Linked DNA regions of Homo sapiens. The protein of the gene in region 2 purifies or fractionates together with the protein of the main gene of each other region. This does not show direct contact. Each region holds a gene or a part of one and is shown on either strand. Other genes may lie near its edges. The genes, in order: ARMC9, HSF5 and SAMHD1.

Region 1 (3,647 bases), on a different chromosome or scaffold from region 2:
CTTCTGACTTCCAAAATTCTAAAAATTATAAAAGATTTCCAGTTGCTTATGAAAATCCCAGAAGGACAGAGAACATGTACAGTTTTCAAATACAGCAACCATCCTGGGCCAGCTGTGTGCCTGTGGGGTCACAGGCATTGGGTCCCCAGTGTAGCCTCCCCGAGCCCAGGGCCAGCAGTGCTGAATGAGTACCTCATGGTTTTCATGGCCAAGAAGATCCGAAAGGACTTTGAGCACGAGGCCTGCCACCTTGGCACACATGTTCTTCCCTATGGGAAACAAATCAAAGCTAAACATGACATGTCTAAACCCAGAAGCACAATTTTAGGTCAGGTAGACTTGGAGACAAATCTTGGCTCCTCTGCTCATGAGCTGTATGACCTCGGGTGAGCTGTATGACCTCGGGTGAGTCATGTAACCAATCTGGGCCTCAGTTTCCTCTTCTTTACTACAGGGATTACTATTCATACCTACCTCAAAAGGTGATGCAAAATTAAGTAGACTAATGTATGTAAAGGACTCAGTGTAGCATAGAACCTCGGTGCTCAGTAAACCATCCCAAGTGGTGGCTATTACTCCGGTCAGAGCACAGAGCGAGTCATTACAGTGAAAGCACAATACATTATAGAGCAACGTTCTCCCTCCCACGCACGGACACCACCATCAGGAAGACCATATAGGCATTTTAGTAGTTATAAACATCATCATAAAAATCACTGCAAATATGGTGATGATGATGAAGAAAAGCTAATTCTAATCTGATAAACATATTAGAAGTTAGGACTTTTGGCTGGGTGCGGTGCTTTACGCCTGTAATCCCAGCACTTTGGGAGGGCGAAGTGGGTGGATCACTTGAAGTTAGGAGTTCAAGATCAGCCTTGCCAACATGGTAAAACCCCCTCCCTACTAAAAATACAAAAATTCGCCAGGTGTGGTGGTGGGCACCTGTAATCCCAGCTACTCGGGAGGCTGAGGCAGGAGAATCGCTTGAACCCGGGAGGCAGAGGTTGCACCACTGAGCCAAGATCATGCCACTGCCTCTAGCCTGGGCAATGGAGCGTGACTTCATCTCAAAAAAAAAAAAAAAAGGCTAGGACTTTTTGCATGCTATTTTTTTAAATGACTGAAATAACAGTCATTTACTCAGTCAACAACACACAGTTACATGGTTCAGTCTACAAAGTATATAGAGGGGAAGATGCTCCAACAAGTCCTCCTGAGCCAGCTGTTTACCCAGGGAGCCTTTCTCTCCTAACACTGGATGCTCAGGCTGGGGAAAGCCACAGCCTGGAGGTGGCACCTCTTCTAAAGAAGCTTCTTTCATCCCAGGTAACAATTTAAATGAGATAGTACCTGTACCTGGAAAAGCTCAAATCACTACCTTCAGCGATCAAGTATATAAATGACTGATCAAGTATATAAATGACTTGTGCCCACAGGAGAACCTCCACCTCCAGGGCTGGGGCAGGGAAAAGAGTGTGATTCAGGGCAGGAAGTGTGGTTTAGTGTCACTGCTACTGCGGCCAGCTTAATCCTATAGTATCTTGGGAACACACTTCTTTGTCTTCAGAAAAGGGGATCATATTCTTAATTTCCTACCTCTGAATAATGCAATAAAGAAAAAGGTAAATGAACTTAGTCTCCTCTTAATGCAGGCACTACATATATACAAGACATTTTTTCCAGGGCAAGAATGGATTTTGCCTTCAGGGATTCAACAGCTTGATACCTAGTTGGAAATGCTTTCTACTCCTTTTTCTGTTTTTAGTTTTCTATGAGACTAAAAGCAAACCATATCAGGCTCACTAGAAACCCAGCTTCAAGAGTCAAGATCTCTTCCCCTTCTTGCACTAGAATGAGGGTCGGGGCTGAGACCTGTGCTGCGGAGGCAGAGGTTCATGAGCAAAGCCACCGAGTACTCCAGCGTGTAGTCAGACAGGCAGTCAGGGTCCTTCAGAACATCAACCAGCCAGAAGATGAGGCCGTCTTGAATCATCGCTGTCTGCAGCGGGCGCCTGGGAAGAAAGAGCCTACGGTAAATACAAACTGCCAAGAAACTTTTCATATAAGAGGAAACAGTAGGCTGGAAGCAGTGGCTCATGCCTGTAATCCCAGCACTTTGGGAGGCCAAGGCGGACGGATCACCTGAGGTCAGGAGTTGGAGACAAGCCTGGCCAACATGGTGAAACCCCGTCTCTACTAAAAATACAAAAATTAGCCAGGCGTGGTGACGGCGCCTGTAATCCCAGCTACTTGGGAGGCTGAGGCACGAGAATTGCTTGAACCCGGGAGGCAGAGGTTGCAGTGAGCCGAGATCGTACCACTGCACTCCAGCCTGGGCGATGGAGCAAGACTCTGTCTCAAAAAAAAAAAAAAGAAGAAACAGTAATGTGAATGCATATCAGAAAAGACAAACTTACAGAAGACATAGACTCTGAGGAATATTTTTGTTAAACCCATACAATTGAAATAACAAAAATTCTTTACATTTCAGGGATATTTATTAAGGGTTTAAATAAAGATAAGGTGGTAAGGAGGCCTCCTACTTTGAAAGTTTCCTTTTCAATATTTAAAATTAGCAGAGCATTGCTTCAAATATCTAATAAATATTTATTTGTAGCTTTTGGTTTACTTAACCCAGGAAACAGGACCATAGAAATACTTCTTTGACAAATAGGTTTTTTGTTTTTTTTTCCTGAGACGGAGTTTTGCTCTTATTGCCCAGGCTGGAGTGCAATGGCACGATCTCGGCTCACCGCAACCTCCGCCTCCTGGGTTCAAGTGATTCTCTTGCCTCAGCCTCCCAAGTAGCTGGGATTACAGGCATGCGCCACCACACCCAGCTAATTTTGTATTTTTAGTAGAGCTAGGGTTTCTTCATGTTGGCCAGGCTGGTCTCGAACTCCCAACCTCAGCTGATCTGCCTGCCTCAACCTTCCAAAGTGCTGGGATTACAGGCGTGAGCCACCGTGCCCAGCTGACAAATAGATTTTTACCTAAACGCTCTATAATCCAGCTCTAGGCACTCTGAGCTGTATAAAAATAAAGAAAACAAGGAGGAGCAAAAGCCTAGCTTAACATCACTTTGATTCACATTTCTATAGAGTAAGGGTAGTTTAATGACCTGGTTAATGCAAATTATAAGGAATGATTTTCCACCCAAAGTCCAGGTGTAGAATCTTACAAAATCCAATACCCCATCAAAATGTGTGATGGTGAATGTCATCAGGTTAGCTTTAAGAATTGCTGAGACTAAGTGTGGTATCATTATGAGATGCCATCTGGATTAGTAGAAAACTGACATGCCACAGAGAAGCCAGCTCTGCACATCTCCGGATGCGCAGGTTATGGTGAAACCACCACTCAGGACAGAACAGCAGAACCAGTTATCCGTTCATCCTGTTCTTAAACACTACACTGACCCAATCAGGGTGGCTTATTAGAATACAGTGAAGACTGCGCTCTCTTGGTAACTAGCTACCTTCTTCATTTATTGCAGAGACTCTGGAAAACTGCAAAAAGGTTAAGCACATTTACAGAACAAAAAAGCTTAAATTAACACTTAGAGGAAAAGATAAACAGGCAGTAAACATTTGCATTACCAGGAGGAAGTATTTTTTTCACCATATCTTGTATCTGTTACTTAA
Region 2 (4,442 bases):
TGGGCAACAGAGTGAAACCCTGTATCCACCAAAAATACAAAAAATTAGCTGGGTGTGGTGGCCACGCCTGTAGTCCCAGCTACTCGGGAGGCTGAGGTGGGAGGATCCCTTGAGCCCGGGAGGTGGAGGTTGCAGTGAGCCAAGATCTTGCCACTGCACTCCAGCCTGGGGGACAGAGTGAAACCCTATCTCAAAAAAAAAAAAAAAAAATCAAGTCTATAAAATAATTTGGCCATGTGAAGTGGCTCACACCTGTAATCCCAGCACATTGGGAGGCCAAGATGGGCGGATCACCTGAGGTCAGGAGTTCAAAACCAGCCTGGCCAACATGGTGAAACCCCATCTCTACTAACAATACAAAAATTAGCGAGGTGTGGTGGCAGGCACCTGTAAAATCCTAGCTACTCTGGAGGCTGAGGCAGAAGAATCACTTGAACCCGGGAGGCAGAGGTTGCAGTGAGCGGAGATCTTGCCATTGCACGCCAGCCTGGGCAACACAGTGAGACTTAATCTCAAAAAGTAAAATAGGCAGGGCGCAGTGGCTCAGGCCTGTAATCCCAGCACTTTGGGAGGCCAAGGCTGGCGGATCACCTGAGGTCAGGAGTTCGAGACCAGCCTGGCCAACCTGGTGAAACCTCGTCTCTACTAAAAAATATAAAAATTAGCCGGGCATGGTGGCACGCGCCTGTATTCCCAGCTACTCAGGAGGCTAAGGAATGAGAATTGCTTGAACCCGAGAGGCGGAGGTTGTGGTGAGCCGAGATCGCGCCATTGCACTCCAGCCTGGGTGACAAGAGCGAAACTCCGTCTCAAAAAAATAAACAAATAATAAAAAATAAATAATCCACTATCACAGAGGGTTTCTTAACTTTTACTAAATACAGATGTATACCAAAAAGTTTTTTCAATACTGAAAGATTGTAGCCAATAGTGAAAACTCCAAAGGCTGTAAATGTGAGCTTTCTAAAATTCTTTTTTAACTAAAACTTGACAGCTGTAAAGAAAACCATCTTTGCCTTATGTTTGTCTAATCATACCCCTTTAAGGAAGCATCAAGCTCTAATTTGCTTCAATGAAAGAAATGTGTAGCCAATTCATTCTACATAGGAACTATATCTTGTAAGCCACGATGTATCGTTGTATTTTTGCTCTTAAGGTATATAAACAACGTCTACCATTCTACACATTAACCAGAACCTTAAATCTGATGATTGTCGTAGCACTTCTAAGATTTCTTAGATGTGCCAATAGGTGGAAGGTGGCAGCCCTCTTCAAGGACAAATTTCCACTGCAGGCACCTTTTCCAAAACTTTCCCTTGCCTGCTATTGTAATGTTCTAAGTTCTCTCTTTTTTTTTTTTTTTTTTTTTTTGAGACCGAGTCTCGCTCTGTTGCTCAGACTGGAGTGCAGTGGCACTATCTCGGCTTACTGCAACCTCTGCCTCCTGGGTTCAAGCGATTCTCCTGCCTCAGTCTCCTAAGTAGCTGGGATTACAGGCGTGCACCACCATGCCTGGCTAATTTTTGTATTTTTAGTAGAGACGAGGTTTCACCCTGTTGGTTAGGCCGGTCTCAAACTCCTAACCTCGTGATGCACCCGCCTCGGCCTCCCAAAGTGCTGGGATTACAGGCGTGAGCCACCACGCCCAACCGTAATGTTCTAAATTCTCTTGACTACGATTTTGTTCCATCCCGCCTTAACCCGTAGGGTGACTCCACTCTGCTTCCCACGGGAGCAAAGGAGCCCCTTTTGTTTCTTCCAGACCCAATGTTTCAACGAAGGACTACTGAGTCCACATGTTTACAGTGGACAGTGTGGGTCTCAGGAAGGTAAACGGAGGCTTACAACCAGGTAAACTCCTGGGGTTCAAACCGGGGACGAGTAGAAGGGAGCCTAAGAGGCGGAGGTCCCTTTTGCTGCCAGTGGGCTCAGAAGGGGCCGAATGCTTACGGACCCTCCAGGGGAGGGCCGGTGGCCACCGTGCTGGTGCCGCTGAGAACGGCGGCGGTGGCGGGACCGCCAGTCTCGGGAAGCACAGCGGCCAATGGGTCCCCGGCGCCTTTCCGACGCCCATAGCGTGAGGACGTGCGAAAATGCGCCCTCCAGCGGCGGTTGCTCCCCGCCGCCCATGTGCCCACTGTGGGCGAGGGCACGGGCAGTCCGGACTCACCGTGCGGCTCGGGCCGGGGCCCCGCGGGCGGCGGCGGCTGCTGGTGCTGCAGTGGCGCGGTGGCGGCGGAGGCCGAGGTGATGAGCAGCCGCTGGAAGCGGTTGGGCGGGCGGCAGGGCACCTCCAGGCCGGCCGCCAGCTTGGCCTTGTTGGCGCTGGTGAGGCGCTTGAGGTGCACGAGCAGCTGTGGCTGGTCGCGGCGGAAGTGCGGGTTGTGGAAGTGATGGAGCGGCCCATTGCCTGCCGGTTTGCCGCCCCCCGGCCCGCCCAGCACCACCTTGCGGAAGCCGTAGAGGTTGAGCTGGCGGATGAAGCTGGTGAAGCTGGTGGTTTTGAAGAGCTCGGGCTCGGCCCCGGCCCCCGCAGTCCCGCCACCGCCCCCCGGCCCGGGCGGGCTGAGCAGCTCGGCCTCGAAGAGCGGCTGATCGATAAGCAGCCCCTCGCCGCGGCCGTCCCAGCGGATGGAGCGGTAGCGCGGGCTGTTCACCAGGCGCCACAGCTTGGCGGGGAAGTTGTTGGGGTTGATGGGGGTGGAGAGCAGCGCCTCCATCGCCCCGCCGGGCCGGGGCCTCGCCCCCCGAGCCTAGCTCTCCCACACCGTTCTCGATCCCTCCCCGGCCTTCGCCTCGCCCTGCCCGCTCCTGCCGGCGCCCATCCGCCGCGTACCAGGGACCGTTGGCGCACGAGGCCCCGCGGCGCCTCCCAGCGCGGCCAATGGGGCCTCGAGTTCCCGCCACGCGGCGTGGGCACCTCCCCCTCGGCGGCCGCGTGCCCCAGCTCGGCCCGCCGGACGCCTGCGGGACCCGGGCAGGAGCCCCTTCCCCAGGCGTTCCCAGACTTCAGGCCGGGAAGGCTGTCTGCCGGGGTGTTCTAAGTCCTGACAAGAGAGAAGCCCAGTTATCCACCGTGGAATACCAAGAGGCGTGTGTTTCGGCCCAGCCAACTAGTGGAGACTTGGAATGCAGAGAAAGTGTGCGTTAGGCAGCAGAGTTGGTCGTTCTGGGGACCAAAGGGTCTGGTCTGTAATCTTTGCTAACAGTGGAACTGCTTACCTCTCAAACAAAAATGATGCTACTGGAGGTATAATATCTTGAGTAAACGAACTCACCTTTTAGATAGTAGCCCTTTGTATCTTTTAAGATACACTCTTTTAAGTCAGTATTTGTTCAAGACAATTTACTCAAGGTTAGATGAAAACTGAGGTCCCTAGGAGGAGGGAATCACAAGAATCTAAGTACTATCTTGTGTGCCTGCCCAACTAGCTGGTGGCATTTTAGACATTAAAGAGAAATAAAGATGGGACAGAATTCTACGGTATCCATAAGAATCGATCCCTAGCCAATCAATAAATAAGAATGTAACAAGAGCTGTGCTGATTCAAAAAGAGAGGTTCATTTGAAAACGGAAATTGGCCGGGCGCAGTGGCTCATGTCTGTAATCCTAACACTTCGGGAGGCCGAGCTGGGTGGACTGCTTGAACCCAGGAGTTCGAGACCAGCCTGGCCAACATGGTCAAACCCTGTCTCTACTAAAAATACAAAAATTAGCCAGCGTGGTAGCATACCTGTAGTCCCAACTGTTCAGGAGGCTGAGGCAGGAGAATCGCTTGAACCCAGAAGGCGGAGGTTGCAGTGAGCCGAGATCGCACCACTGCACTCCAGCCTGGGGAACAGAGGGAGACTCCATCTCAAAATAAATAAATTGGAAATTGCTGGGAGAAAGGGGTACAATGTTCTACTCTTCTCATGGTCAAAGAATAAGTGAATATTAAGTTTTTTTAGAAATGAAAATAAAACGACCCAACAAAGCAGCACTAATATAGAGATTTTATTTAAACTGTATTGAATTTTTACAGCACATTGCATGTTTGTCACAACGCAACTGCACAGTTTGGATTTTTGGCCACATCATGTCACTTACACCCACAACAGCTCTGAAAGGAGTATTTGATGAACACATCTGAGCCAAGAGCCCAGAGTCTCTCTCCAAGGCCATGCAGTTTGTTCACTGATGGGACAGTCCCTCAAAACAGCCACGCTAAGTAGACAGATACAGTCTCCCCAAATGTTACCAATCTTACTCCCCTTGAAAACAGGCAGAGTGAAGTGCAATGAAAGACAAGTTAATTAAAAAGCCACTCACAACTGGCAGTAAATTTTAATGATTGATAAAATGCTTAAAATAATTTTATGTATCAGAAACAAGGAACAGCTTGTTACTTTTTCAATGATCTCAGGAATTTTGCAGACACAAAATCTCCATTATTCAGCTC
Region 3 (3,647 bases), on a different chromosome or scaffold from region 2:
TTTTGTTTCTCATTTTCTCCTGAACCTTTTTTTCTGTTGCCATCACTGTACTCTCTCCAGAATCACCGGTGACTTCAGAGTTGCTAAATCCAGGAGACAGTTTCAGTCCTCTCTGCCTCTGAGCTGTTTCCTCTGCCTGCAATTCTTTTTCTTCCCACCTAAGCCTGTTTGTTTCTTGCTCACTTAGTAAAGTCACTTTCCCAGGAAAATGTTTCCGGTCATTCTCCGGGCACCCTAGGCTACATCAGGTAACCTGTTAGAACATTTCAAAGCACCCTTTGCTTTTCAACTGTGGTTGAATACTTTTATAATTATTTGTTGAATTTCAATCTAGGGCTGCCTGGTTTGTGGGGGCTAGGATTTTCTTTACTTATTTATTTTTGGAGGCAGAGTCTTGCTCTGTTGCCTAGGCTGGAGTGCAGTGGCGCAATCTCAACTCACTGCAACCTCCGCCTGCCAGGTTCAACCAATTCTTGTGCCTCAGCCTCCCGAGTAGCTTGAACCACAGGTGCACAACACCACGTCTGGCTAATTTTTTTTTTTTTTTTTTTTTAGTATTTTTGGTAGAGACAGGGTTTCACCATGTTGACCAGGGTGGTCTCGAACTCCTGGTCTCAAGTGAGCCACTGTGTCCGGCCTGGGATTTTATTTTAAAGTGTCCTTGTTGTACCTCTAGTGTCTATCTGTGTCTGTCACATAGCAGGGATTGAGTTTACACCACACTTAGATCAAACACACAAGTGCATTTCCCATTCTTCCCAGATTTCAATACCAAATCCCTAAGAGTGGTCACGAACCAGTTATTTTTATTCCACCATGAGTCACATCAACATTCTTATTTCCAAATCCCCAGAAGGCTCTGTTCCATTTCTTTCTTTCTTTTTTTTTTTTTTTTTTTTTGAGTCAGAGTCTCACTCTGTCGCCAGGCTGGAGTGCAGTGGTGCGATCTCGGCTCACTGCAACCTCCATCTCCCAGGTTCAAACAATTCTCCTGCCTCAGTCTCCCGAGTAACTGGGGTTACAGGCGCATGCCACCACGCCCAGCTAATTTTTGTACTTTTAGTAGAGGTGGGGTTTCACTATGTTGGCCAGGCTGGTCTCGAACTCCTGACCTCGTGATTCACCCACCTTGGCCTCCCAAAGTGCTGGGATTATAGGCATGAGCTACTGCGCCCGGCCTCTGTTCCATTTCTTGTTATGCTCCTACAGCCCTGAGTTCAGTTCTCCTGCTTGCTATATGATTACTTGTGAATTGCTTTTATTTAGGTTATCAACATGGATTATGGAATGCAAGAAAAGAATCCAATTGATCATGTTAGCTTCTATTGTAAGACTGCCCCCAACAGAGCAATCAGGATTACTAAAAACCAGGTAACTACTTAGGCAAAACAAATATACTATAGTGGCATGTAGCAAATCTTTATAGTAAATTAGCATTTTATATGCAAATTAGGTTTTAAGGCATATCTTTACAATTAAAGTGGGCCTGGCACAGTAGCTCATACCTGTAATCCCAGTGTTTTGGGAGGCTGAAGCAGGACGATCACTTGAGACGAAGAGCTTAAGATCAGCCTGGCCAACAAAGCGAGACCCCATCTCTACAAAAAATAAAAAACTTAGGCATGGTAGCTCATGCCTGTAGTTCCAACTACTTAGGAGGCTGAGGTGGGAGGATCACTTGTGCCTGGGAGGTCAAGGCTTCAGTGAGCTGTGATTGTGCCACTGCACTCCAGCCTGGGTGACAGGGAGATCTTGTCTCAAAAAAAAAGGAATAGTTAGGAGCCTAGGGACCAGCTGATATCTCCAATGTGTGACTTCAAGGTGATAGTGAAATCTCTTCATTTTAAAAAGGTTTCACAACTTCTGCCAGAGAAATTTGCAGAGCAGCTGATTCGAGTATATTGTAAGAAGGTGGACAGAAAGAGTTTGTATGCCGCAAGACAATATTTTGTTCAGTGGTGTGCAGACAGAAATTTCACCAAGCCGCAGGTAGGTGGCCTGTTACTCACAAACTTTGCACAATTTTTTATTTTTAAGTAAAAACCAAAAGTAAGTCTATCTGCTGAAAAGTTCCCATTTAAGTTATAGTCATTTGGTTATGGTTTTGAAAATAAGGTCTTTCACTTTCTTTCCTTTTAAAATGTCTGAATCTGTGTCAGCCAGTGATTTCTTCCTACAGGAGTTGGGAATGGATACTGTTTAGCATTATTGTCCTAATAATAAAAATGTGAACATGTAAATAATGCTTTCTAATGTTGTTCACCAGTGGCCCTGGAAGGTTATTCATAGTGTCTCCATCTTTCAGAGGTTACCAAAGCTGAGTAGTTAACTTGTTTAACATAAAATTGATAATAGACTTCATGTTTCTAAACCTCGTTACTTCAGTATATTAGTTAGCTATTTAAATTATCTAGAATGTGAGTAGAGGGAAGAGGAGCCAAGCCACAGTTGCCAACCCTGTAGAGAAGGTTGTTAAAATTGTCTCTTACTGACCTACACATGGTAGGTGTCTGCACAGAGAATGTGGCCAGTTGGCATTTATTGAATGAATGAATGAATGAATATGATTGGCATGCAGGGCAACAGTGCTTTACTGCCTAGTCTAGAACTCTCCCTCACACCTCCCTGTGTGTCAGGTGCTAAAGGGAACAAAGGATAGGGTGAGACATGAAAGCGTAGCTCAGGATGTCGGTGCTTTATCAAGTGCCACAAGGCATGATCCAGGTAAGATCTCTGAGGATTCAGAGAGTTGGGAGATCTCTGGGAGAAGCCTGGTGAAGGGGCAGGATCTGCTAGATCTAGAAGGCAGGGTTGTGTTTGGATGAGTAGCAGGGAGAATGCAGGGTATATTTGGCAGTGGGAGGAGCACAAAGGCATGAAGCTGGAATGAGCTGAGACTGTTTAGGGGACCATGAGGAGACCTGTCAGGGTAGAAAATTCTTTTTTTTTTTAATTAATTAATTCATTCATTTTTTTGAGATGGAGTCTTGCTTTGTCACCCAGGTTAGAGTGCAGTGGCACGATCTTGGCTCACTGCAACCTCTGCCTCCCAGGTTCAAGCGATTCCCCTGCCTCAGCCTCCTGAGTAGCTGGGATTACAGGCATGTGCCACAATGCCTGGCTAAATTTTTGTATTTTAGTAGAGATGGGGTTTCATTATGTTGGCCAGGATGGTCTCTATCTCCTGACCTCGTGATCCGCCCACCTCGGCCCCCCAAAGTGCTGGGATTACAGGTGTGAGCCACCATGCCCAGCCAGAAAGTTCTTACTGTTAAGTGTGGAGAGGTTAAATGGGAAGAGTGGACTAGATTATTGAGAACCTTGGATAATTGGCTAAGAGATTTTTTTCTCTGTACAGTGGGGAGGGAATCATTGAGCATATTCAAGAATTACCATGCACTGTATGATCTACCTGAATGTGTGTCATCTCCAACTAGAGTGACACCCGTGGGAATAAGAGTAGAATTGTCCCTTGGTGTCTGTGGGGAACTAGTTCCAGGACCCCCACAGACCCCACAGATAGAAAAATCCATGGATAGGCTGGGCGCGGTGGCTCATGCCTGTAATCCCAGCACTTTTGGGAGGCCGAGGTGGGCGGATCACGAGGTCAGGAGATCAAGACTATCCTGGCTAATACTGTGAAACCC

What was found.
Region 1: the proteins of HSF5 (region 2) and ARMC9 purify together in Homo sapiens (co-immunoprecipitation; one large-scale study listed by IntAct). This does not show direct contact.
Region 3: the proteins of HSF5 (region 2) and SAMHD1 purify together in Homo sapiens (affinity purification with mass spectrometry; one study listed by BioGRID and IntAct). This does not show direct contact.

The regions. Positions count from the first base shown.
Region 1 is NC_000002.12:231,275,004-231,278,650, reverse strand, and holds part of ARMC9 (lisH domain-containing protein ARMC9), read right to left. Parts: intron 2,016-3,647; coding exon 1,876-2,015; intron 270-1,875; coding exon 193-269; intron 1-192. UniProt on the Homo sapiens protein: Involved in ciliogenesis. It is required for appropriate acetylation and polyglutamylation of ciliary microtubules, and regulation of cilium length. Acts as a positive regulator of hedgehog (Hh)signaling.
Region 2 is NC_000017.11:58,485,555-58,489,996, forward strand, and holds the start of HSF5 (heat shock factor protein 5), read right to left. Parts: upstream 2,855-4,442; 5' UTR 2,721-2,854; coding exon 2,171-2,720; intron 1-2,170. UniProt on the Homo sapiens protein: DNA-binding transcription factor that is essential for male fertility, spermatogenesis and meiotic prophase progression in spermatocytes under non-stress conditions.
Region 3 is NC_000020.11:36,896,164-36,899,810, reverse strand, and holds part of SAMHD1 (deoxynucleoside triphosphate triphosphohydrolase SAMHD1), read left to right. Parts: intron 1-1,266; coding exon 1,267-1,371; intron 1,372-1,851; coding exon 1,852-1,989; intron 1,990-3,647.